Regions from separate parts of the Homo sapiens genome. Here region 1 is linked to region 2. The links come from fine-mapping of genetic effects on gene expression. A gene starts in region 2. The other region holds a variant in brackets. All regions are shown on one strand. Distances are between the middles of the regions. Region 1 overlaps MYOM2 (myomesin 2). Region 2 holds the start of MYOM2 (myomesin 2).

What was found.
Region 1: its variant is fine-mapped to the expression of MYOM2 in whole blood (TOPMed, PIP 0.97).

Annotation. Positions count from the first base shown.
Region 1 is chr8:2,136,728-2,147,544 of GRCh38, reverse strand. MYOM2 (myomesin 2) reads right to left here. Exons shown (of 37, transcript NM_003970.4): 33 at 6,659-6,822; 34 at 6,368-6,404; 35 at 5,148-5,170; 36 at 4,089-4,144; 37 at 2,089-2,881. The coding sequence ends at 2,564. Among named protein-coding and RNA genes, the nearest start is that of MIR7160, 66 kb to the right of the region's middle. RefSeq lists enhancers at 9,248-9,748, 10,736-10,817. The variant G/A (reference allele first, on the strand shown) is at 6,625.
Region 2 is chr8:2,039,004-2,049,820 of GRCh38, reverse strand. It overlaps MYOM2 (myomesin 2), which reads right to left and starts at 4,775. Exons shown (of 37, transcript NM_003970.4): 1 at 4,653-4,775.

The DNA of each region.
Region 1 (10,817 bases), 98 kb before region 2:
GACAATCTTTCTTCCAGAAGAATTGCAAATAACAGAGGTAGATGCTCCTGCTCCAAGAGGTGAACGTGATTCCATGCTCTTGCTTCTTTGAGGGTGGTCTGGGCTGAGACAGGCTCCCAAGGAATAGAAGGAGAAGAGGAAAAAGCAGGCATTTCATGGGAGACAGCAGGCAGACATCACCTGAGCAAGTGATGAAGGTTAGCGGATGTCGGGCACCCCACATGACTCCTCTTCCCAAAAGCACACATCCCCAGTCTCATCACACGAAGATCGTCTTCCCTGGACTGGGGACCTGGATTGGGGAACATCCTACAAGATAACCAGCAAAACTCCTCAAAGCCACTAAGGTCATGAAAGGCAAGGACAGACAGAAACCATCGCAGGACGGAGGGGCTGGGAGACGTGAACAGCAAATTCATCTGGTGTCCTCGATGGGTCCTGGGACAGAGAGAGGGCACTGGGGGAACCCAGCGAGGTCTGAAGGCCACCCGGAGGTGAGGCCATCGTCTCGCCCCACAGCAACGCGAGACGTGAACAACAGGAAGACTGTGGAGTCCACTGGGCTCTCTGCGCCGTTGTAAAGACACTTTACTGCATGTCTAAGACTATTTCATTCTTTTAAAAAAAAAGTCTTTTAAAAAATATTATAACTCAAAACTATGGAGGCAGTAAAATGCTCAGTGGTTGAAGGGAAGATTTTTAGGGCAGAGAAAAGACTGTGCATGATGCTACAATGGTGGACCTGAGTCCTGATCACCCGACCAAACCCACAGAGCCAACAGCACCAGGAGTGTGCCCAGGGTAAACTCCAGCCCCCGGCAATGCTGACGCTTCAGTGTGGGTGCAGCAGTTGTAACAAGCGCCAGAAGCGAGCCCAGGGTAAACTCCAGCCTGCGAGGATGGTGACGTGTCAGTGTGGGTGCAGCGGTTGTAACAAGCACATCCCTCTGGTGGGAGGTGTTGGTAGCGGGGGAAGCTGTGGTGGGGGTAGGGGTTGGAGTGGAGATCTCTACCTTCCTTTTAACTTTGCTGTGAACCTAAAACTGCTCAAAAAGGAGGTCTATTAAAAATAGTATATATGGCTTCAAGAAATTCACAACCATTTGAATTATTTCCCATGAACCACGATTGCTAAACAAAAATGACTGTTTAAACTGGAAAATAAACAAAATCTGTTTAACTAAATCAAGGTCAAACTGAGACTGTCTGCGCCTACCCTTGCCAAGCACGCTTTGGAAAACGCGGCTGCCACCACGCAATAAGAACAAACTCCGCTCAAGTTCATCTGCACGACAGAAAAGGGAGAAATAACAAAAATAAAATTCTTGCTGATACTCACTTTACTGCCATGGAAACCAGCTCAGCCAGCTTTATGTTACTGGGGACATATTTAATTCTCAGGATTTGTATTATTACCTTAGAAAAATATAACAAATTCTCGTAAAATTTGGATTGCCCTTAATGACACAGAAAGGTAAAACATTCTTAATTATCAAAGCTTTTTCTGTTATAAAGCAACAATAAAACTAAAATATTGAAATGGGATTTTTATGCCAGAAGAATTTCAGCCTCTTTCCAAACAAAGGAGGAAAAAGTTCAAAGAGAGGGTATGTTCCTCCTAAACACGTTTTTTAACTTCACCAAGAGGCCTTGTGTAGGCAGCCAAGTTTTTATTTTTCCTCCATGGCTACTGCAGTGATCATTCTGAATGAGTGCCTTCTTTCTTTTGAAATCCCTTCCTAATTCATTAGCACACTAAAAAAGAACAGAGCCATCTTTGCATTTCATTTTCCTCTACAGAGACTTTTAGATCCGTGGTATAATCACTAGGTGGCCTTTCTAAGCCTTGCACAAAACGCACACTTCTTAGGACTGGTGCCGTCTTGGGTGCCGCTGGGGGCCAGCAGCCCAGCCCCGTGGGTCGGAGGGGCTTTGGGGGTGTGATTCACCATGCCCTGCTCTCTGGAGGGTGAGTGCACTATCTGCACCCCACCAGCCGTGAAAGTGCATGATAACCCATAATTAAACAAGCCAGGGGGTGAGCAGGGGCAGGTAGGTGTGATTTGGTACAGGAAAACCACAACAAGGTGATTTTTAAACTTTTATTTGCCTAAAGCAAGAGAAAACAAGCTTAACCAGGTAACACATGCTTCAAAGCCTCGACAGCCAGGATTTCAGAGATGCTAGATCTCGCGGCCCCCCAAAGAGAAGCACGGTGGCTTCACACAGACCGCCACATGCTGCACACGTCCAGGTGCCACACCCATGTGCCCACACCCGTGAAAATTCTAGTGTGTTGTCTGCCAACCCACTCTCTGTCAGGCATCTGCCGTCTACCCTCGTGTAAATACACGTTGTTCAGTCTTGTGGAAAACATTAGCTTTCTCCCTTAGACGGGTATAAAATATTCATCACCAAATGCAAAAATCAAAAGCACAATGTGTGATCAACTATCAGCCCACACAGGACACCACTCGGATGCCAGCTGCTCATTTGGAACAAGCACACAGCATTCCTGTCTCTGCCAAGCATATTTTCCCATCTCCAGGCTAGGAAAACGCCTTCACTGGCCTGCCGCTGAGGCAGACGCGGGGATGAGCTTGGGCTTGGCTTGCTGGGGCGGGGCCATGTCCGGGATCTTCTCCCCGTGTTTGTACACGCTCACTGTCACGTCGATCTTCTCCCCGCCATACTTATTCTTGATGTTGATGCTGTACTTGCCCGAGTCCTCGGAGGTCACGCCTTTGATGGTCATGCTGACGTACTTGGCCTGCTCCACCTTCACCGAGAAGTGCTCGCTGAGCTGGATGTCCTGGTCGTTCTTGAACCAAATCACTTCGGGGTCAGGGTTTCCAAACACCGTGCAGGTCAGATTCAAGGTCTTTGGACGGAAGAGGTTGGTGGAGAAGGAAGAGTTAGAAAAAGGAAAGTCATGTCACCCCCTCGGACGGTGGGCTCCAGGTCACACTCAGTTACATTTATTGGTCCTTCAATCGTTTGTTTAGAAACAAGCCTTTATGTACATGAGCGCCGCTCTGGACAGAGCAGGCAGAGGACAGCAGGGAACAGGTTCACCACTTCACAGGCGAGCTCGTAAAAAAATCAGTGAGCATGTGTCCTATTTATTCTTAGCTTTTATCCATAGCCTAAGTCAATTAAAGAATTTGAAAGTAATTTAATTAAGCTCTATGTTTTATAGTAGATATATCCAGTCTGCTCCCAAATTTCCTTTCTATTTAGAGTTATGGATCCCTCTTACCAGTTCCTCTGGCAAACCCATTGAATATATCGTTTTATAACTGGTAAATTGGAGGCAAAAAAATGCATTCTTGAAGCTTAGTTAAAACATGCTTTCAGCCTAGGATAAAGTAAAACGATTGCTAATTTCTCAATTACATCCTTAAGATGAGATCTCAAGAGCTCTCTAGGCTTCCATTAGCTACTAAAGAAGACGTCTATAAATTTTTGTCTTTTGGGCTAATAAAATTTTCTCAAGTATCTCTGTCCCTGTGACATTGAGTTAGACCCACTGAAGCAACCAGACAGCTATCAATTAGATATCAATAATTCTCCCGACAGGCAACAAATTAAACTCCAATAAGTGGCTTCCACGATGTGTTCCACAATGACCTTGAGAATAGGAGCAGAGATTTTTTTTTCCTTCGTGTTGTAAAAGCTGTGCTGTTTCACACTGGAAGCAGGGGGCTTGCACCTTCACACACGCAGGTAGGTCAGGGCGAGTGTGGCTGCCTCATCCTGCAGTTGCTCCTCTGGGTGAATGGCCACAGGGGCATAGAAACACCCAAAGCCACAGCACTTGCCTTGAGGTGCCTGAGTGGCACAACGTGTTCCTCTGAACACAGGTTTGTGGATTCGGAATGTTATGTGATTCCTTCCTTTGAGAATACAGGGGCTATTCCAAGCCGTCTAGGAGGGGCAGAAAAGTGGGGGGGACTCTGGGTTCCCTGCAGGCTGAGTGAGGACACAGAAGCCCCTCACTGGGTTCCCTCTGCTCCGCCCCAAGAGAAGGGGTTGCGTCCATCGCACCGTGCTGACACCCCCACCCCGGCCGAGTTTAGAATCCTCACCTTCCCTTCCATGATGGTCACCACGTCAGGCAAGCCGCCGATCAACCTGCCACGATCTGCAACGGGAAAGCACCTTGGTTAGGAAAACATCTGCGGGACGTTCCCACGGAGCAGGAGCCATGTAAGCAGCAGTGGGTACCAAGGTGAATGTGGTGAGGAGTTTATGCTCAGGAGAGAGCGAGCATCAAAGAAAAAGGTTTATATGTTTACAGTTGAGGGATAAACCAAAGCCAAGGGAAGGTAGATGAGGAGATAACAGACTCTGTGAAGGGGTTGGGGGAGAAACACTCCAGAGGAAATGTGAGATGGGAACTGGGCTTGAAGGGTGAAGAATTCACCGAGGACGGAAGGCCTGGAGAGCCGCGTGTGTCCCTGAGTTGGGCAGAAAGTGACGGGGTCCTGGCCAGGCGCAGTGGCTCACGCCTGTAATCCCAACACTTTGGGAGGCCAAGGCGGGCAGATCATCTGAGGTCAGGAGTTAGAGACCAGCCTGGCCAACATGATGAAACCCTGTCTCTACTAAAAATACAAAAATTAGCCGGGCATGATGGCGGGTGCCTGTAATCCCAGCTACTCGGGAAGTTGAGGCAGGAGAATCGCTTGAACCCAGGAGGCAGAGGTTGCAATGGGCCGAGATCATGCCATTGCACTCCAGCCTGGGTGACAGAGCAAGACTCTGTCAAAAAAAAAAAAAGAATAAAGGGAGGGAGGGGAGGAAGGGAGGAAGGGAGGGAGGGAGGGAGGGAGGGAAGGGGAGGGGAGGGAGGAAGGGAGGGAAAGAAAGTGAAGTGGCCCTGGGTGTCTGGGCTGCAGGTTCTGCAAGGGAGGAGGGAGGGAGGGTGTCCAAGGGGTGACGGGGCTAAGGCCGAAAGCAGTGCAAGGATCAGTGGTGCAGGACATGGGGCTCCAGGACAGGGTGTGGTGTTGGTGGCGTTGTTACATCAGGGTGGGGGATTGCTGGTTATTATTTAATACACAAAGTTGGTCCTCCAAAATATGGACACTTTTGCCCCACCCCAAATAATTCACCATCCTGGTTACAATCCAACAGGTACTTACTCTTCTCTGCAAAAGCAGCAGCTCTAAAAGTTAAAGGGGACAGAAAGGAGAGAATGAAAAGAGAGTATGAGAAAATGCTTCCAACAAAATGCACAGCTGAGAGGCTCACTAGCGATGAAGCAAAAGAAGAAGGAGATACGTTTGCATTCTCTTAGAAGAACATGTTCGGGTCACAGGACCCCAGGATGGATATCACTGATTTTTCCTGATGGTTCCCACTGCCCATTTTGAGGTGGAAAATGCCCTATTATCCAGATGCTAAAACCCACAGAAAAGTTTAGCATTCCAGCTCACAGGTTGAAGAGATTTTTTTTTTTTTCACAAATTCACTAGATTGCACTGGAGACTTGAGATATTTTCGGAATTTGTCAGTTTCTGATCTATCTTGCTCATCCCTGCACCCAGTCAACAAATGTTCATTAAATAAGCTAGCATGGGCCAAGGACTGCGGTCAGCTTCGGATGTGCGAAGACTCGATGGTGCATTTGAAAACCCCGAATTGTCCTTAAAAAGTTGCTGTGTGTGATGTGCTGCCCTGATGATGACTGGCAGAGCAGCAGCACCGCCATCTTGGACTAGCATCGCCATTTTAAGTCTTCCTTGATTAGAAACCGCCTAAGTCCAGCCCAAAAACATCAGCTTAAGGGCTAATGTCAGCATGGCCATAAACCACAAATGACACCTCCGACCAGAAACATACCAACCCTGGCATAACCTGCCCTCCAATCAAAAACATTCCAACCCTGAGATAAGCTCCCCTCCAACCAGAGGTATTCCAACCTCACAATAAAACTCTCCTCCACACAGAAACCTTCCTAGCCTGAGCCAGAACCCTTAAATACCCTTAGTCTGTAAAAGAAAGCGCTCCTGACCGAAATCGGCCAAAAGCCCCACTCAGGTTTATTCTCCAAAATAAACCTGTCTTTGACTGTTAATCTGCTTTGCGTGTTTCTTTTCTCTTTCTTCAACTCTCACAATAATGATTTCCGAAATTCATCCGGGGTTCCGATGACTCTGGACAGTCCGTTTATAAATGCATTTCTGGTTTAGGAGAATGCCCACCCCTCCATATACTGCATTGCTTAAATTCCCACTTCTGTCCCAGGAATGGCTCTTTCTTTAGGTCACCCAGGCTTCCATACAGATTCCCACATGCAGCCAAAACGACTGGGACTCAACTGCCCACAGGATATCATAGTAACTAAATACACAAATCTTACTTGAATTGCTGGAATTCTGCAAATGCTTCATCAAAAGCTGTGAGGAAATAGTTCATACGTTACTAACCATTTCAGTGTTCAGATTTTATTTATTCACTCAAATATTATACCAGTGAATCTGGTTCATGAAAACTGATATATAAAAAAAGAATAAATTTATTTTTTCATTTTCTCTAAATGAAAATTGTAAATTCATATTGTCTCTTGTATTCATATTGTATTCCCTCCCTTCAGCATCTAAATGGATTTCTAAATAG[G/A]AAATTATTAAATGCTAAAGAAGAATTCTCTTACCTTGTCCGGACAGGTCAAGGGAGCGTTGATGGTTGTCTTTGCCATCGAAAATCTCAAAAGTGTATTTTCCTTTATCCTTCTCAGTCGGCTCACATATCTGCAGCCAAGCCATCTCTTCACTCCCCCCGATTCTCATATGCTCACTGGATGAGATCTTAGCATCTCTTGAAAAGAGCAACAGGAACGTATCTGAGTTAGGGTCTCCATGTCACACGCACAATGTCTACAGGGCAATGTCCCGTTGCTGTGACAGCCTTCTCTAAGCTGCTGATGCCAATGTCACAATAGATTATTCTGGCTGTTACGAATGTATTGACCACATCAGTAACTCAGATCTGAAAACTTTCTAAAATTAAATGATACTTAATTTTTAAAGGTATATTATTATGTAATATATACTTGTCACGACATAATGGACTTAACATTACTCTATATAGTATGGTAGTTCCTCAAAAAATTAAAGCTAGAACTACTACATGATCCAGCAATTACTTGTGTAGATCCGAAGAATTGGACACGGGGTCTTGGAGAGATATTGTCACACCTACATCCTTCGTAGTATCGTTCACGACCGCCCCGGTGGGGAGGCAGCCCAAGCGTCCATTGGTGATGAATGGATCAGTAGAATGTGGTCCATAAATACATGAGGGAAATCCCAACACCTCCTGCAATGTGCATGAACCCTGAGGACATTTTGCTGAGTAAAATAAGCCTGTCACAAAGAGACAAATATGTACTCCTATGAAGGGCTTAGGGTAGTCAGATTCACAGAGACAGGAAGTAGAACTGTGGGTACCAGGGGCTGGGGGAGGGGAATGGGGACTGAGGGTTTAATGGGAACAGAGTTTCGGGTGGGAGGATGAAAAGGTCCTGGGTGGTGGTGGTGCCTGCACGATGATGTGAATGTACTTAACACCACTGAACAGTACCCTTAAAGGTGGTTAAAATGCTCACTTTTACATTATGTGTATTATGCTACAATATTTTAAAGTTTAGATAAAAACAAGGTGCTCATACATTCCCGCCTTCTAAGGTTCCACATCTGCAACATATAAGGCCAAACTGTTTACTGCAGACAAAAGTGTATAAGTTATTTCCTAACATTACTTCAGTTTAGAGGGAGCCTGAGAGATCTGTGGAAGTCATAGTCACAGGTGCATGAAAACAGGACGGACTCCAGGGCCACCCAAGAGCTGGAATGTGGACCTGTTTCTCTCGGGCACCAGCTCCAGAACAGCCGCAGCTTGGGGAAGCAGGCTGGGTCAGTTGCACAGAGAGCCAGCTGTGGTGCTTGTGGCATCTTTCCTTACCCTTGCCGGCAACCAAGAATGCCTATGTTCCATCGGGAAAGGGAATTCTCCAGCCCTCCTCACCATCATAGCCTTTTTCTCTGTTATTCTTTCCTTCAACAAATATATGTTAAGCCCATAATAAATGCACAGCTCAGGCCGGGTGTGGTGGCTCACACCTGTAACCCCAGCACTTTGGGAAGCGAAGGCAAGAGGAACACATGAGCCCAGGAGTTGGAGACCAGCCTGGAAAACAAAGCAAGACCCTGTCTCAACAAAAATAAAAAAATTAGCCGGGTGTGGTGGCAAGCACCTGTAGTCTCAGCTACTCAGGAGGCTGAAGCAGGAGGACTGCCTGAGCCCGAGGAGGTCAAGGCTGCAGTGAGCTGTGATCACACCACCGCACTCCGGCCTGGCCAACAGAGCGAGACACTGTCTCAAAAAGTATATATGTAAAAATAAATGCTTGGCTCTGCGTCCCGGTCTCTGGTGGTGGTGCTGGCAGTGTGTGTCGGGTCTCTGGTGGTGGTGCTGGCAGTGTGTGTCGGGTCTCTGGTGGTGGTGCTGGCAGTGTGTGTCGGGTCTCTGGTGGTGGTGCTGGCAGTGTGTGTCGGGTCTCTGGTGGTGGTGCTGGCAGTGTGTGTCGGAACTGAGTCTGTCCGGATAGAAAGTGGGAGTTCTGTGAAGGCACAGTGGGATCCTGGCGCACACTAAGCCAGAGAGGCCGAAATGGCTGTTCCCAGGGATGGTTTTGTGGGATTGGCTTCACCCTGAGACTTAGCCTCTGGGATCCCGGACAGAGAAGGGAGGATCTAACACTGCCCATGTGCGGTTGTTTTAGAATCCAAGAAGACATGCTCAACATCTACTGAAGCGACTTTGGAACATAACTGACACACATTTGTCTACAATAATCAGGTTGGCCTCACCTGTTGCCGATGTGGGAGCGAGTTCGTGCCGCCTTAGAAGGCAGGGCAGTGTGAGCACTTTGGTTCTATCTAAACTTTTAAAAACTGTGTTAGAATGCACATAATGTAAAAGTGACCCCTTTAGCCCTTCACAATATGTTAATTAGCTCCCTTTTCCCATAATCTGCCCCTCCCCGGAAAGAGGCGGGAGAATCGGACCAGGCAATCCTTCAGGAATCTCTCAGTCCCGCATCTGGAATTCTATACGTTGCTGACCTGGGAGCCTCACGAAGGCTGACCCCGCAGCAGAGCCCCAGGCTCCGCCCAGCTGCTCTCAGTCCACAGTCAGCATGGGCTGCCTGGGGAGCAGGAGAGGGAAGCAGAAGCGATGAGGCCATGACCCCAGGCCCCAGCACTCAGCAGCCAGAGCCGGCCGGGCCGAGAGTGCCATGTTTGCAAGCTGCAGGCTGGCGCTTACATTAAAGGCAACACGGACTTGCCAGAGTCTCCATCCGTGGTGTGTCTGAGGGCAGGTGAGCATCAGTGGCCACACCAGCCGTCCTGTGAGCTCACAGCAGGTCGCTATTACTAAAGGGATTGATGGGCCATTGCAGCACTCAGACCTACTCATCCCTGTGTATAAAAGGAAAATTAGACTTTACATGGTGATTCTCAGCTCTGCAGAAAAGAAAAACCTTGCACAGAACATATACCAGGCAGTGGATTAGCCACTCAATCCCAAACCGTGGCGTGTGAGGAGCAGCAAGAAGCCCGTCTGTGCAGAGACCTGAAGGCAAAGAGACACTGACACACTGTAGGGACATCACAGCTTGATTAAGAAAGACTTCTTTATCCCCCTGGATGCACTTACAACTGGACACTTTACAGACCAATCAGCAAATCAGAAATTGCAGATCAGTGGGGAACTGGGCCCACTGTAATCGTTTATTGACTAAATGTACCCCATCCAAGGAAACAGGGTTCCACAAGCATGTGGAACTCTTCTGTTGAGAGTCAGAAAAACTTGTTTTGCCAACACTGATAGGCCTTAGTCATCTTGTCACCCTCTCTTGTTGGAACTGATGAGGGTCAAAGTTCAAACAAATGCACACACACACACACACAACCAGGCACAGCCAACTTGGCTATGTGTGCTTCCTGCACACACACAGACCCGTGGGACAGGATTCCAGCCTGAACCTCCACACATCAGTAAGGCCCTCAGTCCTGCCTGGCCCCACCCTGCTTCCCTGCCCTGCAAAGCCTGGATACTGCTTGGGGATTTGTGATGAGCTCCCCGCTTGCGAAGAAGGGGACGATTTTTGTCATGCCTGGTGTCTTGCATCCTGCACGAAATGCTCTGTTCGTGCTGTCGCTGGTCAGTCTCACCAAGAGGACGCAACAATCGCTGCCACCCTGTGTGAGCTCATCACCCTGTGTGAGCTCATCCTCCCACACATCACGTGGGTGTTAGGGAGAAGACAATGTTTTCTTGATCACCATTAACTCAAATGTGTCTTCTTCAAAGAGCTAAATTATGTGCCAAAACTATTGCATCCTAGATGTATAGACGAAGATGTTCAAACCTCTGCTCTGTGTGTGTATATGTGTGTGTGTGAGAAAGAGAGAGAGACTAGAAATTCTTCCGTGGGGTAAAATTGCAAACAGCCCCAAAATCTCACTGTTTAGACTTAGAGCCATGAAGAAAAGCTAGTGGAGTTTCCACCGTATCAGCCACAGCTTTGTCCAACAGGTGAAATTCACTGGGCCACGAAAGTTGCGCTGCAAATGCTTCATGAAGTGGCAGCGTTTTAGCCTTTGCGGCGTTTATGTTCTGCTGGACTACGTTCCATTCCAGTGGTGATCCATTCTACTCACACAATTAGCAACTTGCTTACAGAAAAAGAAACATAATTTTATTTTGATATAGGTGACAAGGGAAAAAGGTACACCTTCACGCGA
Region 2 (10,817 bases):
GCTGTACATGTTCACCCAAAACACGTAAAATGCCAACGTGCTGAGTGACTTGATCATCACGGCAAAGTTACGTAGGGACCGTATTCCTAAATCTCTGCAGTCATTAATTTCCCAAACAAGGTGCAAAAGGACTCACAACCTGAGCTCCATTTTTTACTTTTCTGTTTAAATGACGAGGATCTGTCCTTATTTAAAGACAGAACTCCTAGGCCAGGCCCCATGGCACAGCCCCAGGGGTGCCACCCACATCCCGGGCCATGGGTATGAGACTTGGGTGGAAAATGCCAAGGGCTGCTCGGAGATGAATTTGTCATAGTTCAGATCTCCAGGGTACGTGCTAGAAAACCTACCACAGTACATAAATTGCTCCTTATGAGCTGTTTCCTTTGAACTCTGTAATCTCCGAGAATCACAGTATTGTAGAACTTGGAAAGATCACTAGCGATTACCCAAACTCCTATTCTACAGGGAAGAAAACAGGACACGAGGGCCAGAAAGGAGAAATTCTTCCCCAAAAGCATGTAGAAGAGGCTACCCCTGCCCCAAGGCCATCCTTATTCTGGGCCTTTCACACTGCCACACTAACTCTCTCAATATTGCCTCTTAAAACCCAACTAGTCGACCAACCACCCCACCCTGGGAGGGCCCAGCCGTGTTTTAGAGTGCACCAGCATGCATTCTACTCCAGGGATATAACGGAACGTTGCACCTCATAGAACACAATAAAAGCAGCCGGGCGCAGTAGCTCACACCTGTAAACCCAGCACTTTGGGAGGCCAAGGCGGGTGGATCACGAGGTCAGGAGATTGAGACTACCCTGGCTAAGATGGTGAAACCCCGTCTCTACTAAAAAAAATACAAAAAATTAGCCAGAATGGTGGGGGTCCCCTGTAGTCCCAGCTACTCGGGAGGCTGAGGCAGGAGAATGGCGTGAACCTGGGAGGCGGAGCTTGCAGTGAGCCGAGATCGCGCCACTGCATTCCAGCCTGGGTGACAGAGCGAGACTCCATCTCAAAAAAAAAAATAAAATAAAAATAAAAAATAAAATAAATAAATAAATAAATAAAAGCATATCTCCTCCACCCGCCCTGATATTGAAGGCAGTATCATAGTGCAGAGGTCAAGCGCCCAGGTTTTGATGTCTGGTAGACCTGGGATCGAATTCTGACTCCAGCATTCTGATGAGGCCTGGGGTAGCTTCTAGCTCCTCTAGCTCTGGCGTTCCATATTGAATCTGCATCATGCCTGGCCCTGGCCCTGGTACCGAAATCGGTTGCTGTCTCTGTTATGCTGCTGCTGTTATCATGGTTCAAGAATTCTGCAGACAGGAAAAGGTATCTGAGAAAATCTATGTATTGCTTCACTATTTGAAATCTCCCCAGATGCAGCTCACTGGGATTTTCCAATGAGTTAATCAAGGTGGATCTTCAAGAAACGCTTCCTGCTCAGAAACCCATTTACTCTCTCTGGAGTTCACCAGCAGGGTGCTGGGAAGAGCTCACTGAAATGAAGTTGGACCAAGGTTGGGGAAGACGTTTCAGCTTCCATCCGGTTTCCTATCCAAGGTTCTTCTGGGATCAGCCTGACGAATACCAGGCAATTCCACTCCAGCAGACGCATGAGCAATCCCCAGTACCTGCTATTGCAGCAGGGGCTCATGTGTCATCACAGTATCTACTTACACTTATGTTGAGTTAAACCTCAGATGTGTTTGTATTTCTTGGTAAAGGGAAGAGTCAAAATGTGACCTATTAGGTCAAAGGAGAGAATGAGCTACATTGAAATAAGAGGAGAATCGCCCTGGATGGAAATCCTCCTCCTTAGACCTAAGACCTGGAAGAATGTGAAACGGCTCAGGTCTTGAGAGCTCACAGACTAGCTATCCTTCAACCAGTCTGTAACGTCCTGTCCAATGCAACCTATGTATCACTGACGTGACATCCGGTCCTGTGGGCCTGGAAGTCTTCAAACACTTCATGTGTGAGGGGCTACACTTTGTAGTGCTTAGCAAGGCAGAGCTGGGATCACGTGTGCACACTTCCTGCAATCCTCACTCCAATGGTACCTTACTGTGGAAGTCTCCCCGGGAAGTCTTTGGATGGGGGTAACAGGGCACTTTGCCACGTTTATCCCCACATGTATTCCCTGCTCACTTCATGCTCAGGACCACCAAAATCAGGAGGTGTCAGAGGCTTTGCAGAATCCATCAGCCTCAGTTGATTCCACAAGTATGGGGTCACTTGCAACGTGCCAGCCAAGCCTAAATCAGAACCCTTGGATTTCAACAATGAAAACACCTTAGAGCTCCTGGCTCGGGAGAGTAGCAAGCTCAAGTCTTCTGCGCATTTGACTCCCAGTGCCAATGTGCCCTCAACTCCACTTTTATCAATCACATGCCCAACCCAGAAAACCAGCAGGACTGCACGTCCAGCCTCACCCACCCTGAATGTGTGTCCCCTCCGCAATCTCTTCACTCCTTGGGGGACTTCCTATGTTAGAACTTCCCCAGTGTCCCTCACCCAGCCTGGGCCACCACCTCCTGGCCGGGTGTGATGACGTCTTTGCAAGCAAATCCCCACTGACTCAGCACGTGCTGGGTGCCTGCAGCCCTGGCAGCACAGGGCCCTTCTGAGTGGAGGGAACCCTGGAGAGGACTTGCCAAATGCACCCTACAGGTGGAGCATCCCTTATCCAAAATGCTTGGACCAGAAGAGTTTCCAATTCCCGATTTGTTTTTCAGACTGTGGAATACTTGCATTTATACTTACTGGTTGAGCAACTCAAATCCAGAAATTGGATACTTGAGATGCTCATGTAAGCATTTCCTTTGAGAGTCATACCAGCGCTCACAAAGTTTCAGAATTTAGAGCATTCTGGATTTCTGATCTTCAGATTTGGAATGATCAACCTGTACTATTTATGACACTATAAAGAAAATGACAGGACCTGGGCCGATCAGCTCCCCAATGTCCCTCTACTGTCTACATAGAAAGCTGTTTTCCTTTTTAAGGAACTATCTCAGACATGTGTTAAATACCCCCTACACACACCAACCAAAAAAAAAAAAAAGAAAAAAGAAAGAGAGAGAGAAAGAAAGCAGCTTTTCCTCGCAGGGTAGTTTTTGATGTGAGTCCCTGGGGCTCAGGCGCATTGGGAGGCTGAGACTCCAGTGGGGACCTGCTGACCTTCAGCTCAGGGGCCTCCACCTGCTCTGCTGTAAAACAGGGGGCTGAGTGAGGTGGCAGCTAACAGTCCCCCAGCTTGGACAGCCTGTGTGTAGATAATCCTGGCGCCACGCTGTACTGTTAGCACAGACCGTCCCCAGGGAAATATGACTTGCCCGGGTCACCGGTAGGGCCACGGCCGAACCCAGGCGCCAGCTGACTCTCCTGACAGCGTCCAGCCCACTTTCCACCACAGCCCAGCTCCCCGGCCACTCCCGGAATGCTCCTGACACGTTTAGGAATCATGACACCAGGATGAAACGCGAGCCTCTCCTCCAGTGCAGGGGACCACGTGTCTGATATCCCCATCCTAATTCCTTCCTGCAAACAACGTGTGGAGCCCATTCCTCATGTCACCAGGATGGGTTTTAATTTGCAAAAATGTTTGAAGTACAAAACATTGACTTCCACTTAATGAAGGAAATTGTTTGTACAGTTAAAAATGTCAAAGTCAATAAATACACCAAATTAAAGCTTTCTAGAGGGGAAAGGGACTCCCAGACACGCAGCGTTGGCCTGTGCCACAAGTGGCTAAGCCCTTGGCTCCCAAGACAAGTTTTAGCTTGGGACTTGGTTTATTAAATAACGCCTTAAATTATCTTTGTTCCACGCTTTCTTTGAGTCCTGTTTTACTTCTACTTAGTAAGAAAGGAATGTGAAATGGAGAATTAGAAAAGGCCAGGTGTTCCCAGTGATGGCAAACCCCTTCCTTCCGTTTGCCTCCGGTGCCTTCCACGTGCAACCACCCAGCCCCACTGTCTTTCTCCAGCAGGTTGCATTTCAAGAGCACGCCCTGAGAAGGCACAGCCTCTATCAGCGGAGTGGAGCTGAAGAAGTCTGAAGGGTCACAACACACCCAACAGCACAAAGAAGAAAACAGCCGTAAGAACGCTGTCATTTTTGGGCAAAAACTTGCAAGTCCTGACAAGGATTGTTCTCTTTCCCATACCGTGGATAATATAGGCTAGGTCTAAGCTGAATGACCCTCGACTCTTTTTTCCCTTAAGAAAATATCCAGTTTTATTATTTCACACCTTTATAAGTCAGCCCTCTCCTCGGGGGAGGCTTTCGTTTCTGAGAATCTCATGAAACTTGCAGACATCAGTCCACTGACTGGGGGGCCCCCTGGGGCCACGATGAGACCAGGGCTAAAACCCAAAGCACACGCCGCAGGGTGCTAAACGGCACTTAGCAAAGACCACGGCTGTGGGAAATAAAATGTTAGTTGAGCATAAAACCTCGTCAAAGAAATACAGATCCCAGAACTAATTGCTCTGTTTTCCACAGTAAAGGGTGCCTGCGACGGGGTGCACTGGCTCTCTCTTCTTGACCCTGAAGTAGAGGTACTTAGAAAATGTGAGTGCAGAAGTTACCGGTCCTCCCCTTAAAGCCACAAATTAGAAAAGGCAAGAAGAGAAAGACACTTACCCAGACAGAAAGGAAAATTGCAAGGAGGAGAGAGAATTCCTGACCACCGGCTCACCAAGCCACCCACACTCCAGCCGAGGAAGGCAGAGCTGACTCCTGCAAAGCAAGCGCCTGTGCCTCCCTCCCGTTTAAGGTCTGAGGAGCTACTATATATAGACGCCTGGGCCTGCCTCTCCCCACATCAATACCCACATCGTAAATCACCAGCCTGACCTCAGGAGGAAAAGCTTCTTGTTCAAACTGAGGGCGGGGGAAATCACGATTCAAAACTGGAACGTGTCCTTTCTGAGTCCCAAACTGCACTTTTCCCAGGAAACCGGGTGTGACACTTCAGCCCCCGACCCAGAAAGAGAGGGCAGGGCACTGACTTCCCACGCTCCCTCCCCGCAACTCTCCTCCATGAGTTCTAATCCTTACGTGTGAATTCTCAGACATATCTTCAATCCTTTCGAGCTACAGGTTCCCTGGCTCACAAATTGCAACTCCTGAATGAGTCTTTAATAATGACATGGATTTCAGTGAGCATTTGTGCCATTCGCAGGCCTGGACACCCGAGTTGAGGTCGGCTGTGGAGGGAGGGAGGTGCACAAGCCCCTGGGTTTGTGAGCGTGTGTGTGCATGTTCGTGTGTTTGTTCGTTTTTTTTTTTTTATTTCAAGAACGACTCAGGTCTTCACTCGATTGTATCTTAGGGCTATTTTAGCAAGAACTGCCTACCCAAAAGAGGAGCGGTGCCTAGTCGGCAAGTCGGGGCTTATTTATAGCCATTACCACAGACGTACACTGCGTCTACACCACACGGATAATTGCAGGGTGCCCGTCGTTTCGCACAGCGTGTGTCCAAATATAGATAACACACACCTGGCACGGTCCTGGGCTGCAGCCTGGCCAAGAGGCGGGGCCTCAAGGGGATGCCCCCATCTGAGGACCCGGAGAATCACACTCCAGCTGCACCTCACCACAGGGGCTGAGGACTTCGGCCAGCTGCTCAGCCCACGGGGGCTATGCTCCCCAGCTCTAAAACGCATGGAATAACAACTTTCCTGTAAGTTTGTTGTGACAAGTAGAGAAAATATGATAAGAGAATTGCCTTAAGAAACTCCACGTTCTCACACTGGGGTATCAGAGGCACAGCCAAGGACCAGCGAGCAGGTGGATGGAGGCGAAGATCAGATACGAGAAAGACGCGAGCACAGCCTCTTGCTGGGCCCCAGAGCGTTCTGGATGCTGGATCAGGAGGCGAGTGTTTCTGTCTTCTTCCCCTTCGTATTCTGATGGCCTAGCATTTAATTTAATTAGTGTTTGTTGAGTGATTTCTTAGTCTATTCAGGCTGCTTTAGCAAAACACCATAGACCGTGTAGCTTATAAAACACAGGAGCTTCTTTCCCACAGTTCTGGGGACTGGAAGTCCAAGATCCAGGTACCAGCAGACACTGCCTGGGGAGAGCCTTCTGGTTCTGGGACGGCGCGGTCCCTGAGTCCTCACCAAGTCAAGGGGCCAGGCCGCTCTTGGGGCCTCTGTATGAGGATACTGATCCCACTCGGGAGGTTCCACCTCCATGACCTTGTCACTTCCCTAAGGCCCCACCTCCTCACACCATCGTTTTGGGGGTTAGGGTTTTAACCCACATATTTTGGGGGGGTTGCAAACAGCAAGACCAGAGCAAGCAATGTTTACTTCCGGTTTATCAGCATCTCCTTCTCTAGCGAATCCATTTCTCAGGGACCTGGGGGACTTCCCTTCAGCCCTTCTGCCCCCCTGCCTCTGAGTGTGGCCGACACTGGAGGGGCAGTGATGGTGCCTCGTCCCCTCAGGTGGCATCTCAGTCCTCTGAGTCCCAGTCCTGGCATCTCAGTCGCCTGGGTCCCAGTCCTAGCATCTCAGGAGGGGACAATCTCATCCCGGGGAGGGGCCTCTCCTGAGAGAAGGAAGGGCCAGCACACTCCTCCTCCTTTTCTGACATTTCACGGTGGCTGTGCCCTCCTTCTGTGATATAGAAATCCAGTGCTGCGTCTAAGAAAGCCTGGATCTTTCAGCCACACCACCCAGAGAGCAGAGTGTGACCCGGGACACAGATAGGCTCCTGATGGGGACAGAGCTTCGCCTTCTGCTGGGGACAGGAGACCCCTCCCCACCCTCCTCGTAGACCCCCATCTCCCTGAGCCATGCCTGCCCCTGCCCACCCGGGATGTAGCTTCCAAAACTCCCTGGGTGAGGTGCACCTGCAGGAAGCCTGGAGCCAAGAAGGGACAAAAGACGGAGGGAGGCGGTGGGACCAGGCATGGGCCCCGCATTCTCCACCAGACACACCAGCTCTGGGGCAGACAGGCTCCTTCTTGCCGGAGTTCCTTGGGCTGACTTTCTATCATCGGCCATCAAGAGAATCCTGACTAAGACAAAGGAAGAGTCCAGCAATCTCATTTCCACAGCTCAAATTGGCAGCCTGTGAATGGAAAACAGTTGGCCTCACTGAGGATTTCCCACAACATAGAAAAGAAGATCGAAATGCAAAGAGTGACATTCTAAAACCACGTGCCTTCAATCCTGTGGAACCCCAGGCCAGACCATTCATGGGTGAAGTTATGTTCTATACAGCAACAATCCCCAACTGTTTTGGCAACAAGGACCGGTTTCGTGGAAGACAATTTTTCCAAGAACGGTGGAGAGGGGGATAGTTTTGGGATGAAACTGCTCCACCTCGGATCATCAGGCATAAGATTCTCATAAGGAGCGTCCAGCCTAGATCCCTCGCGTGTGCAGGTCACAGTAGGGTTTGTATTCCTGTGAGAATCTAAGGCCGCGGCTCTGAGAGGAGCTGGAGCTCCGGCGAGAATACTCAGTGGCCGCCATTCACCGCGCCATGCGGCCCAGCTCCTCACCGGCCACGGACCCCGAGGCTGGGGTTCAGGACCCCTGTTATATTGCACAGAGCCAAAACTGACATTCGATTCAGGAAAATCAGTTTGGATATTTGAAAGAAATAAAATTATTCTTAAGATATTTTGTTCACTTCCATGCATTCCGTCTCAGAAAACAAATTTTCTGTTTTTTAGAAATTATTTTAGAAATTATCCATGTATTTTAGAAATTATCCATCCCATGTATTTTAGAAATTATCCATCCAACAGGCCAAATATTCAGTTTTATGATTCAAAGGATGACAGCTCACCAGAAAGAGGCTTCGCAGTTGCAGCCACAGCACAGGGAGGGGCAGGGGGTCACCCTCCGTGCTCTCCCAAACCAGGGGGTGATGAGGCCAACAACAAAGGCGTCTGGTCCCCACAGAGCACGTGTGCACAGGCCGCAGAAGGGAGACTGGAAAATCTGGAGGCAGAAAACTCCCTTGAGGGCATCAGCCCCCATCAGCACTGCCTCTCATTCCCAAATCCTGAAAACCTGAATCTCAGAAAACAGCCCCACTTTAAAGAAAAGAGTTTTTTTCTTTATTTTTATTGACTGATGACTGATTGATTGAGATGGCGTCTGGCTCTGTCGCCCAGGCTGGAGTGCAGTGGTAACCTCCGACTCTTGGGTTCAAGTGAGCCTCCCACCTCAGCCTCCCAAGTAGCTGGTATTACAAGTGTGTGCCACCAGGCCCGGATATATATATATATATATATATATATATATATATATATATATATATATATATATATTTTTGGTATTTTTAGTAGAGACAAGGTTTCACCATATTGGTGAACAGGCTGGTCTCGAACTCCTGTCCTCAAGTGACCCACCCATCTCGGTCTCCCAAAGTGCTGGGATTACAAGCGTGAGCCACCATACCCAACCTTGTTCCTTTTTTCTGCCTTTAGAATGTCTTTGTTCCTATTTATGGTTGTGCAGTTCTGTATTTAGAATTTAAACCTCAAGAAAATCACATCCACTTAGATGAATTAACTGTAATGTTTAAATGTGAACCTTCTGAAAATGTTGATTGTGAGAGTAACCTTGTTTAGAGAAATACAATTGTCACCTTCTTAATTTCCAAGAAGTTCAATAGATGTCTCTTTGAGGCCATGCTTAATCCACTAATTGATGAAATAGGTCGCTGACATTCAGAGGAAGCGCCTTCCTTCTAACATTTCATTAAGTCAGTTAAACACGTGTCCACAGAAAGCAGCAGCTCAGTAATGAGGAACCCTTTAGCGACATGAATCGCACAAATTCCCAATGTTTCCAGCATTTCTGAATCATTTTCCAGGAAAGTAGGAAAATAAATGCTTAGGTTTCCTTTGCTTTTTTTTTCTTTTCTGCAAAATTTTGACTTTATTTTATAGTCCTTAGTAAGTTTACCTGCTATCTCTTTTGAGGCCAATATTATTATAACTACACATCAATTTCTGAGTAAAGATTTCCCCAACTACACCATCTTACTCTTCCCCAGACACTCTTGCCACAGCAGCCACCAAAGTGTGGGCTTCTTCTCTCCAAACTTAGCACATTCTCTGTGCTTAATAAAGGAGTTCTGAACTAACTGCCCAATGAATGGATTCAAGAGACATGAAGAACTTACTATTGTTAAGTATAATAGTTAATAGTGGCTCAGAACTAAACAGAAATATACAGAATTGACAAAGCTAGGCTATATTTAGTAATTCTTTACCTCAGCTCAAAAATATATATGGTAGATAGATAGATAGATAGATAGAAAGATAGATAGATATTGATATAGATAGATATAGATATAGACACTTTAAAATATATATACTTTTAAATACATTTAAATTAATATTTATCAAGCATTTACTATGTCTCAGAGTACCAGCAAGTCTTAATACTATAACTCTATGTAGTGGGTAATATATAAGACATGAGATGTCTGAAGTAGACTTTCACTTTTATGTGTGATAAAGTTGCTTCTAGTAGGACAACATTCTTACCCAGAACAAGTAACAATCCAGATAAAATACAGAGTGTGAGAGATGGCAAAAGAGTAATGAAAGAAAGAGAGAAAAACAGATAGGTGAATGGACATATAAGCTGATGGGCAGATGAATAGACAGACAGATGATGATGATGATAGGTTAGATAGATTGATTGATAAAGAGATTGATGGTATATGAGTTACATGATAGATAATAGATAGATGATAGAGTGATAGAAAGATAGATGATAGGTAAATAGATAATATATGATAAAGTGATAGAGTGATGATAGAGATGAAAGATAGACATAGATCAGTGATGGAAATAGATCAATAGGTGATAGATAGATAGACAGGATACACAGACAGACAGATGATACACAAGAGAGCTGTGAGAGCAGCCAGTGGTTCGAGGCCCAGTCCTAGTGAGAATTGTGCTTCCTGAAGTGGGCACTCTCTCTGCACATCACTTTCTATCTCTGGGCTCTTGCCGATTTGTGGCTGGGTTGAAGGTAAGGAAGAGGAAAGAGTGCCGCTGTTGAGAAGCAGGGGGAAACAGCAGAGCTTCCTGCAATACTGTGAAGCTGGAGAGATAAGAATTGGAGTCTGGGCCTGACAGTGCATCCAGGATTTGAAAGGCCAAGATCCTGAAGAGAGGGGAGGCTCAAAGATCAGAGCCCACATCTCAGCACCAGGTTTCACCTCAAAGCACTCCATGAGCAGAAGGCAAAAAGTAGTGAGAAAGCAAAGAAGAGCTGCTGGTGGGTTTCTGGTGCTCTTGAGTTGGGGTTTAGGACCCCCAAGAAAGGTGGGGCCATGTTAAACGAGGGAGACTCTCCATTTGCCAATGGTGTGTATTCTTTGGTGAGTTGTCTGTCCAGGCCTTTTGCCCATTTTTTTCATTGGGTTGTTTCTTTTCTCATTGTTGAGATTTAAGAGTTCTGCGGGCAGCCGTACTTTATTAGATGTATATTTGCAAGTATTTTCTTCCAGTCTGTGGCTTGCCTTCCCATTCTCCTGATCTTGTCTTTTGTAGAGCAGATATATTTAATTTTATTGATGTCTGGCTTATCAATTACTTATTTCATCAATTGTGCCTTTCGTGTTATATCTAAAAAGTCATTGCCATACAGAAAGTCATCCAGATGTTCTCCTAGAATGTGTTTCTGAAAACATTAAAACACAAATAGAAATTCTAGAACTGAAAAAAAATACAACGAATGAAGTTAAGAACTTGACAGTTTTCATAAAACTTCCTGTCTCTCCTTTCTCCCTAAGGCCAATATGACCCCCATGC